Linked DNA regions of Homo sapiens. The protein of the gene in region 1 interacts with the protein of each later gene in a pairwise test. Each region holds a gene or a part of one and is shown in the gene's direction. Other genes may lie near its edges.

Region 1 (10,208 bases):
GTATATTTCTATTTCCCTATATCAATAAGGGAAAGTAAGGCAAATAAAAGAAATTCTCTCAGTGGAATGTGAGGGAGTTAATAGTGGTTAACTGGCCGGGCGCAGTGGCTCACGTCTGTAATCCCAGCACTTTGGGAGGCTGAGGCGGGCGGATCACCTGAGGTCAGAAGTTTGGGACCAGCCTGACCAACATGGTGAAACCCTGTCTCTACTAAAAATACAAAATTAGCCGGGCATGGTGGCGCATGCCTATAATCCCAGCTACTCGGGAGGCTGAGGCAGGAGAATTGCTTGAACCCAGGAGGCGGAGGTTGCGGTAAGCCGAGATAGCGCCATTGCACTCCAGCTTAGACAACAAGAGCAAAACTCCGTCTCAAATAATAATAATAATAATGGTTAACTTTCTTTTCTACCCCACATAAGTTGTTCAATACTTTAATACATCAACAAGATCCCACAAGGTAGCAGATCTCATAATAAAAAGAGTGCTGAGGCATCCAAACCGATTTAAGAGATGGTGAGCAATGGGCTTATTGATGACAACGCCTCCTTCCTGTTTCAGAATTTCCTCTAGAGACCTCAAGCAGTTCACAACTACAATTGGATCCTGGTCACGCAGCAAACTGTATAATTCATTTACCAGGGCACCATCTATAAAAAAGAACAAAGTTCTTAGATAAAGAAGGAAAGCTTCAGAGTAACAAGGATGTAGCCAGAGTAATAGCTCCAGGTAGACAAAGTTGAACTTCTCTGCTACAAAAATGACAAAGGCCACACTAAAGTGCAAGGCAAAAAAAAAACTGCCATGTCCAGACTGTTCTAAGCAGCTAATACAAAGGATCTCATTGGGGCCCCAGAGAAAGGACTTCTCATCTCCAGAAGATACCAAGCCCTGCATCCTACTTAAAGAGATATGTACAGAACTGGGGCCACATTATTATTTTCTACCAAAGCCACACAATCTTTTTTAAAGTTATACATAATGGAGGCACATTGACCATGATGGATTACACTGAACTTACCTACTTCAGAGTCTCCATGAAGATTATGCATCTTGGCACATCCAAGGACTGCCACTCTCCTGACATATGAAGCCTTATCCCGCAGACCATTGAGAATAGGCTGTTGTATATACTCCTGCACACCAGGCATCCTAAGCAACACATCCTGGAGTTAGCCAGATTCTGAAATACTAATTTTGACATACCTCAGCCCCTGTTCACCTAACAGATGGTTTAGTAGATGCTGCACCCATCAGATCATGAAGAATTGCAGAAAGCCTCTATCAAGCTTAAAAAGCCATAATTTGACTTTTCTGTTTTTTTCTTGTTTTTTTCAAGATGGGGTCTCACTTTGTCACCCAGTGGCCCGATCATAGCTCACTGCTGCCTTGAATTCCCGGGCCCAAGCCATCCTCCTGCCTCAGCCTTCCTAGTAGCTGAGACTACAGGTGCGTGTCACCATGCCCATTTAATTTTTTGTAGATATAGGCTCTCACCATCTTGCCCAGCTGGTCTCAAATTCCTGGGCTCAAGCAATCTTCCTGTCTAAGCCTCCCAAAGTGCTGGGTCTACAGGCATGAGCCACTGTGCCCAGCCTAATTTGACTTTTCATTTGGAATAATGATGCACAGGCAGCAAAAAAAGATATACACATAATTGTTTAGAGATATTTAACCAAAACTGAGGACTATTTTACTTAGAGTGAGAATCAAAAACTCCCTCTAATAAAATTATATGATACAGGTTATTAAGCCAAAGCAGTGGCTGAAAATCTGAGTTCAGGGTACAATAATGTTTTCCCCAGTATTAAGGAGCTCAAATAAATTATCCTCTTTAAAAACCTACCCTGTGATCACTTGAATTCATCAGCCATTTAGGACCAGACAGAGAAGAGGGTACTCACCTGAGGCTACACATGCTCCGTAACGCCAGCCCTCGCACCATTGGATTGGGGTCTGAGCAGTCTTTGCACAGCGTATTGATGGCCAGGAGAGCCAGATCTGGTTTCAGGGGAGCATATGTGCACATGTACAGATAAACCAACTTCTTCTGGACAATATCTACAGTGGCACTGGCCTTCACCATTTCCATAAAAACACCAGACATGTCCAAGCCTTGAGTCATGTACCTGAACAACGCACATGACAGAAGGAAGTAAAATGCAAAATCCCCAACTTACAATGGAGGGAGTTTTACTTACATATCTCCTGATTACCCAACTAGATTGTGATCTCTTAGAGGGTAGCAGCCAGGATTACCTTGTCTATTATATCACACAGTACTTCATACCATAGGCCTACAATAAACATTATTCTTCTATTCATTCAACAAACACTTATTATTATTTTTGAGACAGAGTCTTGCTCTGTTACCCAGGCTAGAGTGCAGTGGCACAATCTCGGCTCATTATAAGCTCCGCTTCCCAGGTTCAAGCGATTCTCCTGCCTCAGCCTCCCGAGTAGCTGGGACTACAGGTGCGTGCCACCACGCCCAGCTAATTTTTGTATTTTTAGTAGAGACGGGGTTTCTCCATGTTGGCCAGGCTGGTCTCGAACTCCTGACTGCAGGTGATCCACCCGCCTTGGCCTCCCAAAGTGCTGGGATTACCAGCGTGAGCCACCGCACCCAGCCTCAACAAACACTTATTGAATCCCTAGTACTTTGGTGAAATTCAACTTTTACATCCAGGGACATGCTCTTGGGACATAATCTTGAAGAAGGTGTGGTCTCAAACCTCTAGGAACTTCAAATCTATTAATGAGCCAGATGAGAATACCGTTAATTACAGTATGATAGATAAGTACTTAAACAGAAGTATTGTACAAGGTGTAGAGGGGATTCAGAGGTCTGACACTGGCAGGAAGTCAGAAAATGTTTCTTCACAGAGGAAGTAATACTTTAGCTGAATGAGCAGGAGCTCACTAGGCAGATGTAATAGCAAGGTAAAGATACATGCTATGAGGTAAGTAGACATGAGCAGGAGCAGCACACATTTTTTTAAGAGTCTGTAGGTAGTTGAATTAACAGCTTGTTCCTTGGGTGCTGTGATAAGTTTGGACTTTATTGTTTCTCAGACTGGTCTCCTACTGGAACCAACTGAAATGTTTATTAAAAATACAGATTCCTGGGTTCCCTCCCACCCTACTGAAATCAGAATCAGTCCCTGGACTGGATGACAAAAAGCACCCCAAGGGATTTTTATGCATAGTAAAGTTTGTGAACCATAGCTGTAGGCAAGAGTTATGTGTTCAGGTATGTATAATGGAAAAATTCTGTCTCAAATGAGGCAAAGTGGCCTACTAGTAAGCTGCTGCAATTGCTTTATTGATGAAGGCCTGGACCAGAACAACAATGCTAATAAACAAGAGAGGATGGATATTTAGAATTATGAATTCAAACCATCTGACATAAGAAGTGAGAGATCAGGTGTCCTCAAGGTTGGCTCCCACGCATAGTCGGCTGCTGGTGGCATTCATCAACACAAATGTAAGCTGAACAGGTTTGAGGAAGACGGAAGAATGTCCGGGCTATTTCGGACATACTTTTGATAAACCACGCACGTGGAAATGCCAAGCAGGCAGTGGGATACGTGGGTCTGAAGCTAAAAAAGGAAGTCTGTACTAGCTATATTATAGATCCAAGAGTCACCAGTAATTGCTCAAGCCCGTGATATGGAGGAAACTACCCAGCTGAGTAAAAGATGCTGCAGAGGGGAGACTGACATGGTACTCCAAAGCAGCAGGACGAAGACCGAACCATATAACTGCCACGTGTGAAAGCTAATTCACCCTTTCAGAGAGACTGGGGCTAGTGAGCCCTGATGGGGATTGCAAAGGGAGCAGTTAGCACGCGAAGGGAGGTAGGTGATACCTAATCACTCGCTGGATGACATTCCGGTAGCGCAGCCTATCAGCTTGAATGTGAGGATTGCACAGAGCCTTCTTCAGCTCCTTCACCACGTCCTCGGAGCCAAGGTACGGCATCTTCCTAAGAGTCACAGGGCAGCTCCCACAGCTCCCACGGTAACTCGAGGGCTCCTTCTCGTCCTGATGTGGGAGCCTGAGTAAAGGAAATATGAGTCAGTGAAAATACAAAAGGCGAGATCTCGCCTCAGGCTCGGCTTCCGTAGGGCCGGCACGCTGGCCCTGACACACTTCCACGCCCTCCGCGACACCGCGAGCCCCACCCTAGGCTCTTCAGGCCCTACCGTCGGCCGGCAGGCCGTTCGCCCCGCCCACAGATCGCTCCCGCTACTTCTAGGTCCTCCGCCGGATTTCCAGCGCCGCGTCCGACTGACCGCAGACCCCTCCCTCTCCAGTTCCAGCCTTAATTCCCCCTCCACGCCGTTCTCATCGCGGATAGGCCCAATCTTGCTTTCTGCGGAAGTCCCGCCCCCTTGTCAAGAGACCAAACAGAAGACCGCTGCCGGTCTCCCCGCGAGCGAGCGCTAAGCGTAGTCCCGACTCCGACCTTAGGATGCCCTTCCCCCAACCTCTCACTCTCCAGGCGCAGCTGCGCGGCTCCCTCTGGTGGAGCTGCGGCGGGCAATCGGAAATCGGCTACTTTGGCCTGTCTCCTCCCTGCAGCGCGCGCTTTGAGTGCCCGGCTCGGCCTCCGCTCCCGCGCGGTTGGGAGTGTCCAGCGCCCTCCGCGATTTGGGCTCCAGCGGGCAGGGTGACTTCCTTTTTCTGCCCACTCTGGTAACTTATTGCTCTGCTGGGCTCTTTCCCTTAGGGTCTCTGGCCCTGTTCTTGCCCCAGCATGACTTTTATCGGGACGCCGTTGTGGAAGCCTCACGCAGGAGCCCTGCCCCCGTGGAGAAGATCCCACTGGTGACTCCAACCCTACCACCATGAATGGGGTCCTGATCCCCCATACGCCCATCGCAGTGGACTTCTGGAGCCTGCGCCGGGCTGGCACCGCACGTCTCTTCTTCTTGTCTCACATGCACTCGGACCACACCGTGGGCCTGTCTAGCACCTGGGCCCGGCCCCTCTACTGCTCCCCAATTACAGCCCACCTCTTGCATCGTCACCTACAGGTATGGGGCTGGAGTCGGTCTCCGAGAGCTGGTCCAGGCATCTGGGTTGGGACTTCAACCTGTCATTCTTGGAGTCATAGAATGGGGGCCACGAAAACTGATTTGGAAGTTGTTTGAACCCAAAAATGCATCTTTAACCCAGAATAGGAACGTGTTTTCGAAGTGACCAACTTGAGATAGTTAGCCATAAGTTGAGGAGATATTTTAATCCAGCCAAGGAAACTATTCCTACCTTTATAAGTAAGCTAGGCCGATGTTTCCCAAACTTGCCTTTTTTTTTTTTTTTTTTTTTTTTTTTTGAGACGGAGTCTCGCTCTGTTGCCCAGGCTGGAGTGCAGTGGCGCAATCTCGGCTCACTGCAGCCTCCGCCTCCCGGGTTCAAGCGATTCTCCTGTCTCGGCCTCCTGAGTAGCTGAGATTACAGGCGCACGCCACCACGCCCAGCTAATTTTTTGTATTTTTTGTGGAGACGGGGTTTCACCATGTTGGCCAGGCTGTTCTCTAACTCCTGACCTTAAGTGATCCGCCCGCCTCAGCCTCCCCAAGTGCTGGGATTACAAGCGTGAGCCACCACGCCCCGCCTAAACTTGCCTCATCTTAAGAATCCACCTAATGTGCTGGGTGGTTCTCCAGCTCTCTCCCCACCCCACCCTTAAGTCTCCAAGAGATTAAGATCAGGAGTAAGTTTGGGAATTGCTGACTAGACTGTTTGCTGAACTCTTTTTTTTTTTTTGAGATGGAGTCTCGCTCTGTCGCCCAGGCTGGAGTGCAGTGGCGCAAACTCGGCTCACTGCAAGCTCCGCCTCCCGGGTTCACGCCATTCTCCTGCCTCAGCCTCCCGAGTAGCTGGGACTACAGGCGCCCGCCACCACGCCTGGCTAATTTTTTTTGTATTTTTTAGTAGAGACGGGGTTTCACCGTGTTAGCCAGGATGGTCTCGATCTCCTGACCTCGTGATCCACCCGCCTCAGCCTCCCAAAGTGCTGGGATTACAGGCGTGAGCCACCACGCCCGGCCAGCTGAACTCTTAAATTGTACAAAGGGTGGGATGGGAAGTGGAAGGAGGAAGGGCAGATTGCTTGGGAATCCCCATTACAGCTTCTGCTCCCGGTGGCTCAGGATTTGGTCAGCTTTCCTGATTCATGTAAGGGATAGTCCCTGACCCGGGGAGGTAACGGAGAGGAGTCAGTGGTCACTGGGATGACTAACTGTTTTCTCAGGTATCTAAGCAATGGATCCAAGCCCTGGAGGTTGGTGAGAGCCATGTATTACCCCTAGATGAAATTGGACAAGAGACCATGACCGTAACCCTCCTCGATGCCAATCACTGTCCTGGTTCTGTCATGTTTCTCTTTGAAGGATATTTTGGAACCATCCTCTACACAGGTGGGCCTCTCAAGGAATCCCAGTGACTTCTCCAGACTAGATGTTTTTTTTTTTTTTTTTTTTTTTTTTTTTTAATGTATAGACTGGGGCCTCGCAGTGTTGCCGAGGCTGGTCTCAAACTCCTGACCTCAAGCAATCCTCCCGCTTCAGCCTCCACAGTAGCTAGGATTATTGGCACAAGCCACCACACCTGGCAGACTTTTCTTGAGCAGCCTTAACTCAATAGAAGTCTGGAGGCGCTGGAGGCCTTCTAACTTCATCACATATGAGCATAGTGACCCCATCTCAACTGATTTCCCACTGTTTTTTTTTCCTTCTTCTTTTTGAGACGGAGTTTCACTCTTGTCACCCAGGCTGGAGTGCAGTGGCGTGATTGTGGCTCACTGCAACCTCCGCCTTCTGGGTTCAAGTGATTCTCTTGCCTCAGCCTCCCAAGTAGCTGGGATGACAGGCGCCTGCCACCACGCCCAGCTAATTTTCGTATTTACTATTAGTAGAGACGGGGTTTCACCATGTTGGCCAGGCTGGTCTCGAACTCCTGACCTCAGGTGATCCACCTGGCTCGGCCCCCCAAAGTGCTGGGATTACAGGTGTGAGCCACTGCGCCTGGCCGATTTCCCACTCTTTAAGGGTCCGAACCTTGTGAAGAGTAATTGAAAAATAGGAGTAGGATGGAGACATTACAACAAAGAAACCATGCAGCTATACTGCCTAGTTCAGTGCCAGGCTACATAATAGTTTTTTCACAGACTAGTAAGCAAACGCCTGTCTATTGTTGGAGGTAGGAGAGGCTTGTCTTCTATTCTTTTGTCTCTGACCTTCTGCCCCCATGTACATATTCCTCCAGGTGATTTTCGATACACACCATCCATGCTAAAGGAGCCAGCCCTGACACTGGGGAAACAGATCCATACTTTATACCTAGACAACACCAATTGCAATCCAGCCCTGGTTCTTCCTTCCCGACAAGAAGCTGCCCACCAGATTGTCCAGCTCATTCGAAAACACCCACAACATAACATAAAGATTGGTGAGTTGTTTCCTTTCAGTTTCCTGTCACCTGTAGATAGTGAACTAGATTCTTTAAGGATTCTCACATCTTTCAGATCTTTGTGCAGTTCTCACTTTCTCCTACACTGACCACCTTATTTAAAATTGCAACCTGGCTAGGTGTGGTGGTTCATGCCTATAATCCCAGCACTTTGGGAGGCCAAGATGGGAGGGTCATTTGAGCCCAGGCGTTTGAGACCAGCTTGGGCAACATGGCAAGACCCTGTCTCTACAAAAAATTTAAAAATCAGTTGGGCACGATGGTGCGTGCCTGTGGTCCCAGCTACACAGGGGACTGAGACAGGAGGATTGCCTGGGTCCAGTAGGAGGTCAAGGTTGCAGTGAGCCATGTAAGTGCCATTGCACTCCAGCCTGGATGACAGAGCAAGACCCTGTCTCAATAAATGAATGAATGAATGAAATAAGTAAAACTGCAACCTGCCCACCATCCCCATTCCCAACTCCTGATCATCCATACCAATTCATTTTTTTCATTTTTTTATAGCACTCATATACTATATATATTTTTAAATATGCTATTGCTTACTTGTTGTCTATCATGCACTTCCTCTGGCCCATGCACATACGCGTGCACACACACACACACACAAGCATAAACTCCTTAAGAGCATCACTGGAAATGGGAAGAGACTTTGTGTGTTTGTGGAACAGAGAAGCAGCAGTCAGTATGACAGGCACACAGTGGGCAAGGAGGCTGAAAAGGCAAGAGGGGCTGAAGTGCTGTTAAGCCATTTTGGACTTGATCCTAAACCCAACCAAGAGCTATTGAAGGATTTTAAGTAGAAGAGGGACAATATGCACTCATCACCTTGCAATATATTCTATAATTTATGTATTTATTGGACTTTTTATTGTCTGATTCCCCCTGCTAGAATGTGAATTCCACTATGGCAGTCTCTGTTTTATTATGGGTGTATCACAAATGCCTACACTAATGCCTGACACAGAAGCATTCAATATGAATGAATGAAATTTATCAGAACATAGATATTTAAGTGAGCGTTGTGCTTTAAATTAAGTATACTGAAAAAACAGGTTTGTGCTTGTTGTACTGATTATAAATAGTATAAAACATTGTTGAGGACTCTTTCTTGGAGTTGCCATTTGGAATAGTTTATGAAAATACATTTTTGTTTTATAAAATAAATAAATGTAATAGATTTGGTTCTAAATTACTTTTTTGGTTGTTTCCAAATTTGTGAGTCTACAAAAGGACAAAGACTTGCCACCATTATAAATATTTGAAAAGGACATGTCTCAACTCTGAAAGGAGTTTCAAAATGAGACTAAACAAAGGCATTGAAAAAATTATATAACTTCCAGGGTGACTACCAAATCGATTGAGAAATATCCTCTACTCTCAGGATTGCTTAGCTACTTATAAAGACCTAACCATTCTTAATATTTTAATGCAGAATTTTCTCAAAAAAGCAAAGCTGGCTAGGAGGATGCTATAGTAAGCCTTAATTAATTTTGCAAATATGTAATAAGCCTCTACCCACTAAGTACCAAGTATCCAATAGGCAGTGGGGATATAAAGATGAATAAAATATAGTCTCTGACTTGGAGGGCTCACAGTCTGGTAGGGAAGGACCTGTGGGGAGGTGGAAGTGGGAATATATATAGAGAGAAGAAAAATCCGCTCCATTTGTGCCCAAGGAGTGAGATTTTGAACCATAATCAGGAATAAAGTGGATATAAATAATATATACTTCTTTTTATGGCGTTCACAATCTGGTTGTGGATTTGAAACTTCTTCAGAAAAAGTCTGAGAACAGCTATTAAACAACATCTCCCATATCTGTTACCATAACCATTTCCCAAATTAATGTCTCCATTTCTTTCTCTGTAAGTACTATTTGGGCCCTTCAATTGAAACTTCCACTCCAGCTTCTTCTCATCCTGGCAGTCAAATAATATTATTACCATATTTTTCTTTTTAAAGCCCTGCTCTGAGCATATTATTCTTATGATTAGAATTAGCCATTTTCCTGCTTCACACTCAGTGGCTCCCCTTCACTTACACAATGAAGTCCAAGCTTCTTAGCGGTACATATAAGACGCTCTATTATATGGCCCTTGCTTGCCTCTCTGGTATCATTTCTTATCAATTCCTTTTTTACTTTAGTAACAGCAAACTGACCCCTCTTAAAATGTTTTCCACTATACCCTTTCTACCCTTTCCTTGCCAGGTTAACCTTGCCCATCCTTTAAGATTTAGCCTAACGTTCCCTAACTCCATCACCTGTTAGATACAATACTGTATACTTTTTTTGTTTTTTTTTAAGAGACAGGGTCTCACTCTGTTGCCCAGGCTGGAGGGTAGTGGCATGATCACAGCTCACTGCAGCCTGGACCTCCCGGACTCAAGTGATCCTCCCGCGTCAGCTTCCTGTGTACCAGGAACTATAGGCGTGCACCAACATGCTTATTTGTTTATTTTTGTAGAGACAGGGTCTTGCCAGGTTGCCCAGGTTGGTCTTGAACTCCTGGGCTCAAGCAATCCTCCTGCCTCAGCCTCCTAAAATTGTAGGCTTACAGGTGTGAGCCACAGTGCCCGGCCTGTACACATATCTTTAACGTTGCTCTTAATTGTGGTTTTTCTGGGTCTCCTTGTAGATAGTACTTCTTGAGGACTGACAGTTTTCTTTATTAGTTTTCATGGTGCCTGAAACTTGCTAGATGCTCTCTTTTGTTGAACTAAATGA
Region 2 (10,041 bases), on another chromosome or scaffold:
CCATGAGTTTCTTACGGGCTGACTGACTGGAGATAATCATGGGATACATCAATAGAGATACACTGTTCAAATCAAGGGAGGTGATAGTTTTACTTTAAGCATTTTGAACATCCTGGGTTACATATGGGTATTCTGCCCAATTCCAGATGCCCCTTTCAAGAGGTTCACTGACAAAATGAAGAGAGAAACCAGTGTGATTTTACATGAAGAATAGTTGTTAGATCTGGGAATATTAAACCTGTAGAATCTCTGGCAGCTGCTGGTTAAACAAGGATATTTATTTAGCAGGTATTTCTACAGTACTGTTTACATTTCGGCTAATCTTCATAATAACCTTTTGAAAAAAGATATTAGCTCCATTTTATTGATGAGGAAACTGAGGCCCAAAGAAGTTAAATCACTTATCCAAGTTGTCACAGCTGGTAATGGCAAGGCTGGGATTTCAAGCCACATCTGCTGAATCCCAATAACTCCACATACTTTCTTCTTTGCCAGCAGAAATACTGGAGTTTCTGGTGACGGTGGCAGAGTGGCGGAGAAGGGGGAGATGTTTTGGCTTTGGCTTCACGTAGAAAATTAACAGATTTCCTCCCTCTTGTGCAGGTGGAGTGCAACTCAAAATTGGACCCAACAAAGACCACTCTCCTCAAGGTACAGGGAAAACAGTGGGGGTTCGTGTTTGTTATTTCTTAGAAACTCTCAGACGTTTTCTGCAACATTGAGTTAGGCTTGAAAAAGGCAAGGCACACGATCAGAAACTATAGAATTAATGATTTAATCTATCTGTTTATGAACATATATTGGGTGCTGACTGGTGATCTGAGGCTGCAAAGATGAGGGATCCTTCTCTGGGACTGCAGGAATCAATAGGCTGCTGGTCTGGGGGCTTTGGGGATAGAGGGACCAGGGATGGCTTGGCAAGGGCCCTCCATAGGCTGGGGCCAGGACATTCCTCCAAGAGGGGCTCTCTGCTTGTCACAATAAGAAGAGACGTGTCCCACAGCCGGGGAAGGTCAGGACTTTGTCCAGCAAGTTCATCTGAGCACATGGTGAGCCAGCTCACTCGCAGCTGGATTTGAGTGTCTGTAGCAACCTCCGCCAGTCCTTTGCCAGTTATGACTGATTGCACAATGCAAACCACTGGCTGTTTGTGGCGGCCTCGTCCGGAGATGCAGCCCAAGAGTGGGAACCTTTCAGAGGGGCCTCTCAGCCGGGGTGCACCCCTGCAGGGGCAGATGACCAGGCGGGACCTGGGTGGAGATGAGGCGGCTCCCTCGCACTGGGGGAAGGACAAAGAGGTGGCATCTGTAGGTCACCGTGCCCTCAACTTCCCCCATAGAAGTAGAATGCCTTTGAAAGGCATGTAGGGGGTGTCCGATACTTATTGAGTGGGAGGCTGTTTTCCTGTATTGGGCTCTTTACATAGATTTTCTTTCAAGATTCCCTCAAAAGGAAATTGCAAGATTAGAAGCTGCTGGGCGTCAAGCTTGCATAATGCCGTACTTTGAGGGCGGTTGTCACAAGTATCACAAAATGGGTGGCTTAAAGCAACAGATATTTATTCCCTTTTAGTTCTGGAAGCTAAAAGTCCGAAATCAAGGTGTGGGCAGGGCCGTGCTCCCTCTGAAGGTGCTAGGGGAGAATGCTGCCTGCCTCTTCCAGCTTCTGGTGGCTGCTGGCCACACTTGGTTCACCTTAGCTAGTAGACACATCACTCCAGTCTCTGCCTCCATCCTCACTCAGCACTCTCCCGATTGTATCTCTGCGTCTATGTCCAAATTTCCTTCTTCTTTTAATAACATCAGCCGTTAGCTTTAGGGCCCGCTCTAATCCAATATGACCTCATCTTAACTTGATTTTACCTGCAAAGACCCTATTTCCAAGTATAGCCACAGTGATAGGTACTGGGGTTAGGACTTCAGTATGTCTATTTTGGGGACACAATTCAACCACAACCTACAGCAAAGGGTAGGTGGCCTGACTGAGGTGGGGTGGCCGATTTGATGGTAGATCCAGAAACAGAACTCACTTAGGCCTGATTCTGGAGACTTCCACAGCGTCAGTCTAATGTGCTGAGTGCCCCGCCTGGAGGAAAAATTCGGGCATCCTGCTCCCTGCGTGCTGGTTGAGCTGAGGGCTGCCCCAGGTCAGTGTCGCTTTGTGGCTAGTGTTGGGGGTCCAGACTTGAGGCGCCCTGGGCTGTAGGATGCCCACAGCCTCACCACTCCCATGAACTCCTCCAGCCCCGTTTCACCCCAGGCCACCCTCCCCGCAGCCTCCCCCTGCTCCCTTGCCGTCAGCGCTGCCCATTTCCAGGCTGGCTGCACAGTCTCACAGCCTGCAATGGCCTCTTGCGGTTCGGTGATTTCACAGGGACTTTGAACGTCCACCATTTAGGAAGGGTACTGGTCAGCTGAATCCGGCCTGAAGACCCAAATTCAACCACTTCCTTTTGAGGGAAACTTTCAAGGGAATATATGAAGAGGGTCTTGTTTATCAAACCCTTTCGGGTCAGAGAGATCCTGGCCTGGAACCTTGCGAGTCCCTCAAGCTCTTCCTGGCCCAGTTTCTGCCTGTAAAATGGGACAGCTGTACCTTCCATGGTTCTTGGGGAATGGAGTGAAATTATCTGTAGGGCCTAGCATAGTGCCTGGCACGTAGCAAGCTGCAAGTGATGGTTGCCACGGAGACACCAGCAGCCTTGCCTGGTGGGGCTGGAGTGTTCCCTACCCACGGTCCACCCTGTTCCTCCTTTGTAAGGCAGGACAAGGCAGGGCAGGGCAGCGGGCGGATGGGCATCCTTTCGGAAAAAATTCATAGAGCGCAGAGGGCCTTGGCTGTGGTGTTTGGCACTAACGAGCTTCCCTCTCTCCTAGATGGCGGACTGTGGCGGCCTCCCGCAGATCTCCCAGGTGAGTGCCATGTTGGCTTTTGCATTATACAGCTGTCGCTTCCCCCTGGGTGGAGTGCATGTGCCTCTGTGACACCTGTTCCCTCATTACCTTGCTGTGACATCGGATGACAGTTTGTGGACTGTTGGGAAAAGGTGCTATATAGGAGGACTCTGATTCCCTAGGAACCAACCCCTGTGGAGTAGGTGATACTGCGGTTCACAGAGGTTGGGGGATTTGCCAAGTAGACACACCTTGGTCATCATGGGTCAGAATCTGGGTATGTCTGCCCCAAAGACCACGGGCTTCTGCTGGAGTGAAGGGCCGCAAGGAGCTCCAGCCCAGAGCAGAGGGACATGGAGGAGATTAAGCCAAATTGTGTGTGTGTGCATGCATGTTTCTGTGTGTGCATGTGTACACGTCTGTGTGTGTGCATGTGTACACATGTCTGTGTGCATGTGTAAATGTGTGTGCACATGTACAAATAAACACATTGATCAACGTAATGTGTTTGCTACGTAACTGATCCCTTCAATTTCCCCTCCTATAAAGAATCTCACCAACCTAACAAGTAAACTTTTAATTTGTTGTCTTATAATTTTATATCCTGACAGTTTTGTGTTCCATCTTAAAATGAAATAGAGTTTTTTGTCATCTTTTTTATCCAAAACCTGCCCTGCCTCCTTTCTTCCTCCTTTTTTTCTTTCTCTACTTAAAATGAGAACAGATGTAACCCTGGTCATAATTAAAAGAATTTTCAGAGCTTCAGAGGAGTGCAACGAGCACAGGCTTCGAGGACACCAGCACAGGGGGGAGCAATTCCTGTGTGACACTGTCGTCCTCATGCCGTTGCAGGTTGGGTGTATGTTTACACAGGGTTTTCCCATCCTTGATTAAATTAGGTCCTTGCAATAGTCCTCAGAGGTGGGAAGAGCAAGCATTTTATCCCAGTGTCACAGAAGAGGAAACTGAGGCCAAAAGTTGAGAGAGATTGCCCATGATTACTGGAGCTAAAATTGGGCCCAAGTGTTCTCATTCCCAAGCGTGTATTCTTGGTTCTCTCCACCATCTCGAACACAGGCGTCCCTGTTCCCTGCAGCCCTGACCTGCTTCTCTTGTCTCTTTCTTCCACTGTCACACAAATTCCAGAGGGCAATTTGAGCATAGCCGCTCTTTTAAATGTCATTTGGCTCTTTGTGGAATCCTGGCAGGAGTTAGTGGAGAGCAGGGAGGGGGGTCAGCCCAGCCTCTACCAGTGCCCTCTCACTGCCTCAGGAGAATAGGACCCAGGGCACTGGATAGAACAGTTGGGATTAACTGAAGAACAGATACGCCTTGCACGTATGCCCTTGATATTTGAGCATTCACCTCCAAGTTTACATTAAATGAACTGAGAGAACTGGTAGAACTGGATGTGGTCTCAGCATTCCATACGCATTTCACTTAAAGTAGCCCAGTTAGTTGTTAATTAATTGGTTTGTTTACCCATCCAACGAACCATCCAACCATCATCCATTCATTCTTCTTCATATCCTTTCTTCCTTTTATTTGTCCTTCTTTTGTTCATATTTCTCTTTTTTTCTTCCTTTTGTCCATCAATTCTTTTTTTAATCCATCTTTCCTTCCTTCCTTCCTTCTCTTCCTTTCTTTCTTTTTTCCTTCCTTCTTTCCATCCATCCTTTTCTTTCCACCCATCCATCTATCCATCATCCCTTCTTTCAGCCAGCCTGCTATTGAGGCTGACAGTGATTTGCCTCAAGAACAAGTGTTTTAGGTTTGGAGAGCCCTGGGTTAATGTACAGGACCCACCACTTACTTGTTGTGGGACCCTGAGTGGATTTACCTGTCCAAATCTGTTCAGCTATGAAATGTATCTAAGGTAGCACTGACCTCGTGAGGGGTTGTCAGGAGTAAATGAATGAACGCAGCAAAGCCCCTTGCATTGGGAGTGGCTCATGATGCCGATGCAGTTATGTTCCACTTGCTGGGTTAGACATGTCCCTTTGTGGATGGTAATCTCCTCAGAAACACACAGAAATAGCTGTGATACTCTGCCCTGTATTACAGGTGAGGAAACTGGCTCAGACAGGTCATGTAACTTGTCCAAGTTCCACAGCTGTGGGGTGAATTTCCCATCATTGTCCCATACTCTTACTTTTGTGTTTTGTCCTGTCAACACGTGATGGCTTTTGTCTTGAGCCAAACTCTCAAATGAAGGTGACCACAGGCACAGCCCCCCATGGCCTCGGGTGATCTGGCTCCCCAGCAACTGACTGCATTTTCTCTCCTTGTCTCTCGCAGCCGGCCAAGCTCGCTGAGGCCTTCAAGTACTTCGTGCAGGGCATGGGATACAGTGAGTATGGCATTCCCCGTGTGCAGTGGGTCGGGGCATGTGTCGGAATTGGAAGTGCTCTGTCCTGAGCCAGGTTTGGATGAGCAATTCTGTGTCCCCCTGGCCAGCTTCAGCTTTCTGGGAGGAAACAGTTAGGTGTGTGGAGGGCATGTGGCAGCCTGGAGGATCTAGCCTCTCATTTATCAGTGAGGCTCATTTTTCCTCCTTTGTTGAATAGAAGTTGTTTCACACCAGGGATTTTGGGGGGTTTAGATGAGGACTGTCCCTTTAAGCACCAAGACAATGACCAACAGTGAAACAATAACATTTTTAAAAATTTTGATCACAAGTTTTAAGAGACCACTAGCTACAGTGATGATGAAGATGGTGTCGATGATGATGAAAGATTACTAACACATTATTTTATCTCACTGAACCATCACAGTACTCCTTTGACATATTCTTAGCCCATCTTATCAGTGATGAAGCTGAGGCTTCGGGGTTGTAAGCAGGGAGCAGAGGGCGGATCTGTGGAAATTCTTTGAAGACTGTGAAGCTCTGTGGAAGTGGCTAACAAAGTTGCTTACATTCAAGGTGGAGCATGCCATAGTCAAGTCATGAGCTTTGGGAAGTGGAGGATACATTGGAAGCATCATTCAGGAACTCACTCGTTCTTATTTTGCAGTTATAGTTTGTTAGACACATACAGCCTTTTTTCCAGAAGTGCTGTCCCAGGACTAGGACAGACCCTGGCGAGTTGTAACTCGGCTGAACAGCAGCCACACTCAGTGCTGTGGGCCTGTCAGCCATGGTCCGGCCCTGACATGACTAGTGGCTCTTCTGACCCTACTGCTTGGAACTATAATTCGTGTGTCCTCCCTTACTAGGAAGTTATTGAACTTCTGATCCCTTTTATCATTTCCTTAAACTGTTTGCCCATGTATAGTAAGAGTATGCTTGGTAAGCTGACTGCAGTCCTAGCATTGGCCTTAGCCATGATTAGCTCTAGCAAGGCGAGGCTGGCAGGTTTGATTTCCATGCCTCAGGCTCAGGCAGGATCCACATCCCCAGGTGCCCTCTTCCAACAGAAGCTATCTGCTAGTGGGGCTCCTGCCTTTCTAGCCTGCTTTCCCCGACGGAAGTTGCAGGCAAAGGTTGTCATTGGAGACAGCCATGGAGACAGCCGCGGGGCAGTCCTGCTTTACCCTGCACGGTGTGAATTGTGGCTCCCATTTGTCTTGGTCCCGCCAGGGTTTGGATTTCTGCTTTGAGAGTGTGTTCTGGAGAGAAAGGAAGTGAATGCTAGACCTCATCTTTCTCCCCAAATCGGCTTCTATTACCAGAAAGCTGAAGCCTCCTGCAGGTCTTGGGGGGAAAATAACAGGAAGAGCTATGGTCTCAAAGGCATCAGCCAAAGAGAAGGAAAGGAACCGGTCACTGGCCTTCTGCACACCACGGGGTGCTGGCTTGATGAACCCTTTGCACACCTGGCATCAGTGCTCACTGTACGCTTCTCATCCTGCTCAGTAGACATCCCAGATTTGTGGGTGAGAAGTAGGGGCTCAGAGAAATATGTGAGCTGCGGATGTGGCATTGACCCCAATTCTTTCTGAATTCAAAACTAGCTCTTTAAGACAATTCAGCAAGGATTAATTCTGTTTGGGAGTGCCTGACATCAAAAGCCCCTCCCTGTGCCTATCAAGGAGATAACATAAGCCCTGCATGCTTGGTGTGGATCAACTGCCCCTGTTTCTGATGTCTGACTCAGTGTGGCCTCCTAGCCATGATGCTTCAGTTGGGTGGAGTACTAGTTTCCTAAAGCTGCCGTAACAAATCTCCACAAACTGGGTGGCTGAAAACAATAGAAATCCATTCTCTCAAAGTTCAGGAGGCCTAAAGTCCAAAATCAAGGTGTGGGCAGGGCCTTGCTCCCTCCAACGCTGCTGTGGAAGAACCTTCCATGCCTCTTCCTGGCTTCTGGTGGCCCCAGCAATCCTTGGCTTTATGTGGCTTGTGGCTGCATCACTCCAATCTCAGCCTCTGTCTTTGCGTGGACTTCTCCCCTGCATATCCCTGTGTGCTGTTTCTATAAGGACATCACAGTCATTGGGTTTAGGGTTCCCTCTCAACCCAGGATGATTTCATCTCAAGATCCTTAACTAATTACATATGCAAAGACCCTATTTCCAAATAAGGTTCCCTTCTGAAGTTTCAGGTAGGTGTGAATCTTCCGGGACACTGTCCCACCCGGTACAGGTGGGCAGGATTGTTCCTCCTCATTCCACCCCATCAGCACGTGCTACCCCATCAGCATGTGCCACTTGCACGTGCCATGTGCAAGAGCATTTGAGGTCTCAGAGAAGATCCCAAAGAATAGACAGCGCCCTTGTTAGCACCTGGGCTGACAGGCTTCTTTGGGAGAGATGACAACGAATAGCCATGCCGGGAACTTGCCGTGTGGCCCCTCTCCCTTTCCCCACCTGTGATGTGCAGGGCCACTGACCCCAGGTGTCCTCCCTGCTCCAGTGATCATGGACAGCATGGGGTCATGGGCGTACACACAGGTGCTGATACCAGGGGTCAGTATTTAACATACTTGCTTTACAGATGGGAACAGGGAGGCTCAGGGGGACACTCTCAAAATTACACAGCTTTTAACAGGTGGCAGAATTGGGGTTCAGACCCAGATCTGGGTTCAAGTCACTCATGGTGTGATTGCGGCAGTTCCTTCCCGCATCTGGGCCTTGCCATCTCTCTCTCCGAGTGGACATGGAGAGGACGGGGGCCCAGCAGCTGGATGGCTGCAGGGATCAAGTCTTCTCTGGGGCTGGCACGTAGAAGAGCATGTGGCTGGTGGACGGGCATGCCTGGCTCCTCACCTGGCAGTCTCCTGCCCTCTAACCGGCTGTCTCTTGTTCCCCTAGTGCCCTCGGCTAGCATGACCCGCCTGATGCGGTCCCGCACAGCCTCTGGTTCCAGCGTCACTTCTCTGGATGGCACCCGCAGCCGCTCCCACACCAGCGAGGGCACCCGAAGCCGCTCCCACACCAGCGAGGGCACCCGCAGCCGCTCGCACACCAGCGAGGGGGCCCACCTGGACATCACCCCCAACTCGGGTGCTGCTGGGAACAGCGCCGGGCCCAAGTCCATGGAGGTCTCCTGCTAGGCGGCCTGCCCAGCTGCCGCCCCCGGACTCTGATCTCTGTAGTGGCCCCCTCCTCCCCGGCCCCTTTTCGCCCCCTGCCTGCCATACTGCGCCTAACTCGGTATTAATCCAAAGCTTATTTTGTAAGAGTGAGCTCTGGTGGAGACAAATGAGGTCTATTACGTGGGTGCCCTCTCCAAAGGCGGGGTGGCGGTGGACCAAAGGAAGGAAGCAAGCATCTCCGCATCGCATCCTCTTCCATTAACCAGTGGCCGGTTGCCACTCTCCTCCCCTCCCTCAGAGACACCAAACTGCCAAAAACAAGACGCGTAGCAGCACACACTTCACAAAGCCAAGCCTAGGCCGCCCTGAGCATCCTGGTTCAAACGGGTGCCTGGTCAGAAGGCCAGCCGCCCACTTCCCGTTTCCTCTTTAACTGAGGAGAAGCTGATCCAGTTTCCGGAAACAAAATCCTTTTCTCATTTGGGGAGGGGGGTAATAGTGACATGCAGGCACCTCTTTTAAACAGGCAAAACAGGAAGGGGGAAAAGGTGGGATTCATGTCGAGGCTAGAGGCATTTGGAACAACAAATCTACGTAGTTAACTTGAAGAAACCGATTTTTAAAGTTGGTGCATCTAGAAAGCTTTGAATGCAGAAGCAAACAAGCTTGATTTTTCTAGCATCCTCTTAATGTGCAGCAAAAGCAGGCGACAAAATCTCCTGGCTTTACAGACAAAAATATTTCAGCAAACGTTGGGCATCATGGTTTTTGAAGGCTTTAGTTCTGCTTTCTGCCTCTCCTCCACAGCCCCAACCTCCCACCCCTGATACATGAGCCAGTGATTATTCTTGTTCAGGGAGAAGATCATTTAGATTTGTTTTGCATTCCTTAGAATGGAGGGCAACATTCCACAGCTGCCCTGGCTGTGATGAGTGTCCTTGCAGGGGCCGGAGTAGGAGCACTGGGGTGGGGGTGGAATTGGGGTTACTCGATGTAAGGGATTCCTTGTTGTTGTGTTGAGATCCAGTGCAGTTGTGATTTCTGTGGATCCCAGCTTGGTTCCAGGAATTTTGTGTGATTGGCTTAAATCCAGTTTTCAATCTTCGACAGCTGGGCTGGAACGTGAACTCAGTAGCTGAACCTGTCTGACCCGGTCACGTTCTTGGATCCTCAGAACTCTTTGCTCTTGTCGGGGTGGGGGTGGGAACTCACGTGGGGAGCGGTGGCTGAGAAAATGTAAGGATTCTGGAATACATATTCCATGGGACTTTCCTTCCCTCTCCTGCTTCCTCTTTTCCTGCTCCCTAACCTTTCGCCGAATGGGGCAGCACCACTGACGTTTCTGGGCGGCCAGTGCGGCTGCCAGGTTCCTGTACTACTGCCTTGTACTTTTCATTTTGGCTCACCGTGGATTTTCTCATAGGAAGTTTGGTCAGAGTGAATTGAATATTGTAAGTCAGCCACTGGGACCCGAGGATTTCTGGGACCCCGCAGTTGGGAGGAGGAAGTAGTCCAGCCTTCCAGGTGGCGTGAGAGGCAATGACTCGTTACCTGCCGCCCATCACCTTGGAGGCCTTCCCTGGCCTTGAGTAGAAAAGTCGGGGATCGGGGCAAGAGAGGCTGAGTACGGATGGGAAACTATTGTGCACAAGTCTTTCCAGAGGAGTTTC

The links.
Region 2: the proteins of DCLRE1B (region 1) and NDRG1 interact in binary tests that used the Homo sapiens proteins (3 or more experiments, as listed by UniProt).

The regions. Positions count from the first base shown.
Region 1 is NC_000001.11:113,900,733-113,910,940, forward strand, and holds the start of DCLRE1B (5' exonuclease Apollo), read left to right. Parts: upstream 1-4,593; 5' UTR 4,594-4,854; coding exon 4,855-5,043; intron 5,044-6,263; coding exon 6,264-6,429; intron 6,430-7,276; coding exon 7,277-7,459; intron 7,460-10,208. Other genes in the region: AP4B1 (AP-4 complex subunit beta-1), read right to left, coding at 504-651, 1,023-1,153, 1,906-2,130, 3,873-3,985.
Region 2 is NC_000008.11:133,237,226-133,247,266, reverse strand, and holds part of NDRG1 (protein NDRG1), read left to right. Parts: intron 1-603; coding exon 604-651; intron 652-2,876; coding exon 2,877-2,912; intron 2,913-5,192; coding exon 5,193-5,244; intron 5,245-8,147; coding exon 8,148-8,389; 3' UTR 8,390-10,041. UniProt on the Homo sapiens protein: Stress-responsive protein involved in hormone responses, cell growth, and differentiation. Acts as a tumor suppressor in many cell types. Necessary but not sufficient for p53/TP53-mediated caspase activation and apoptosis.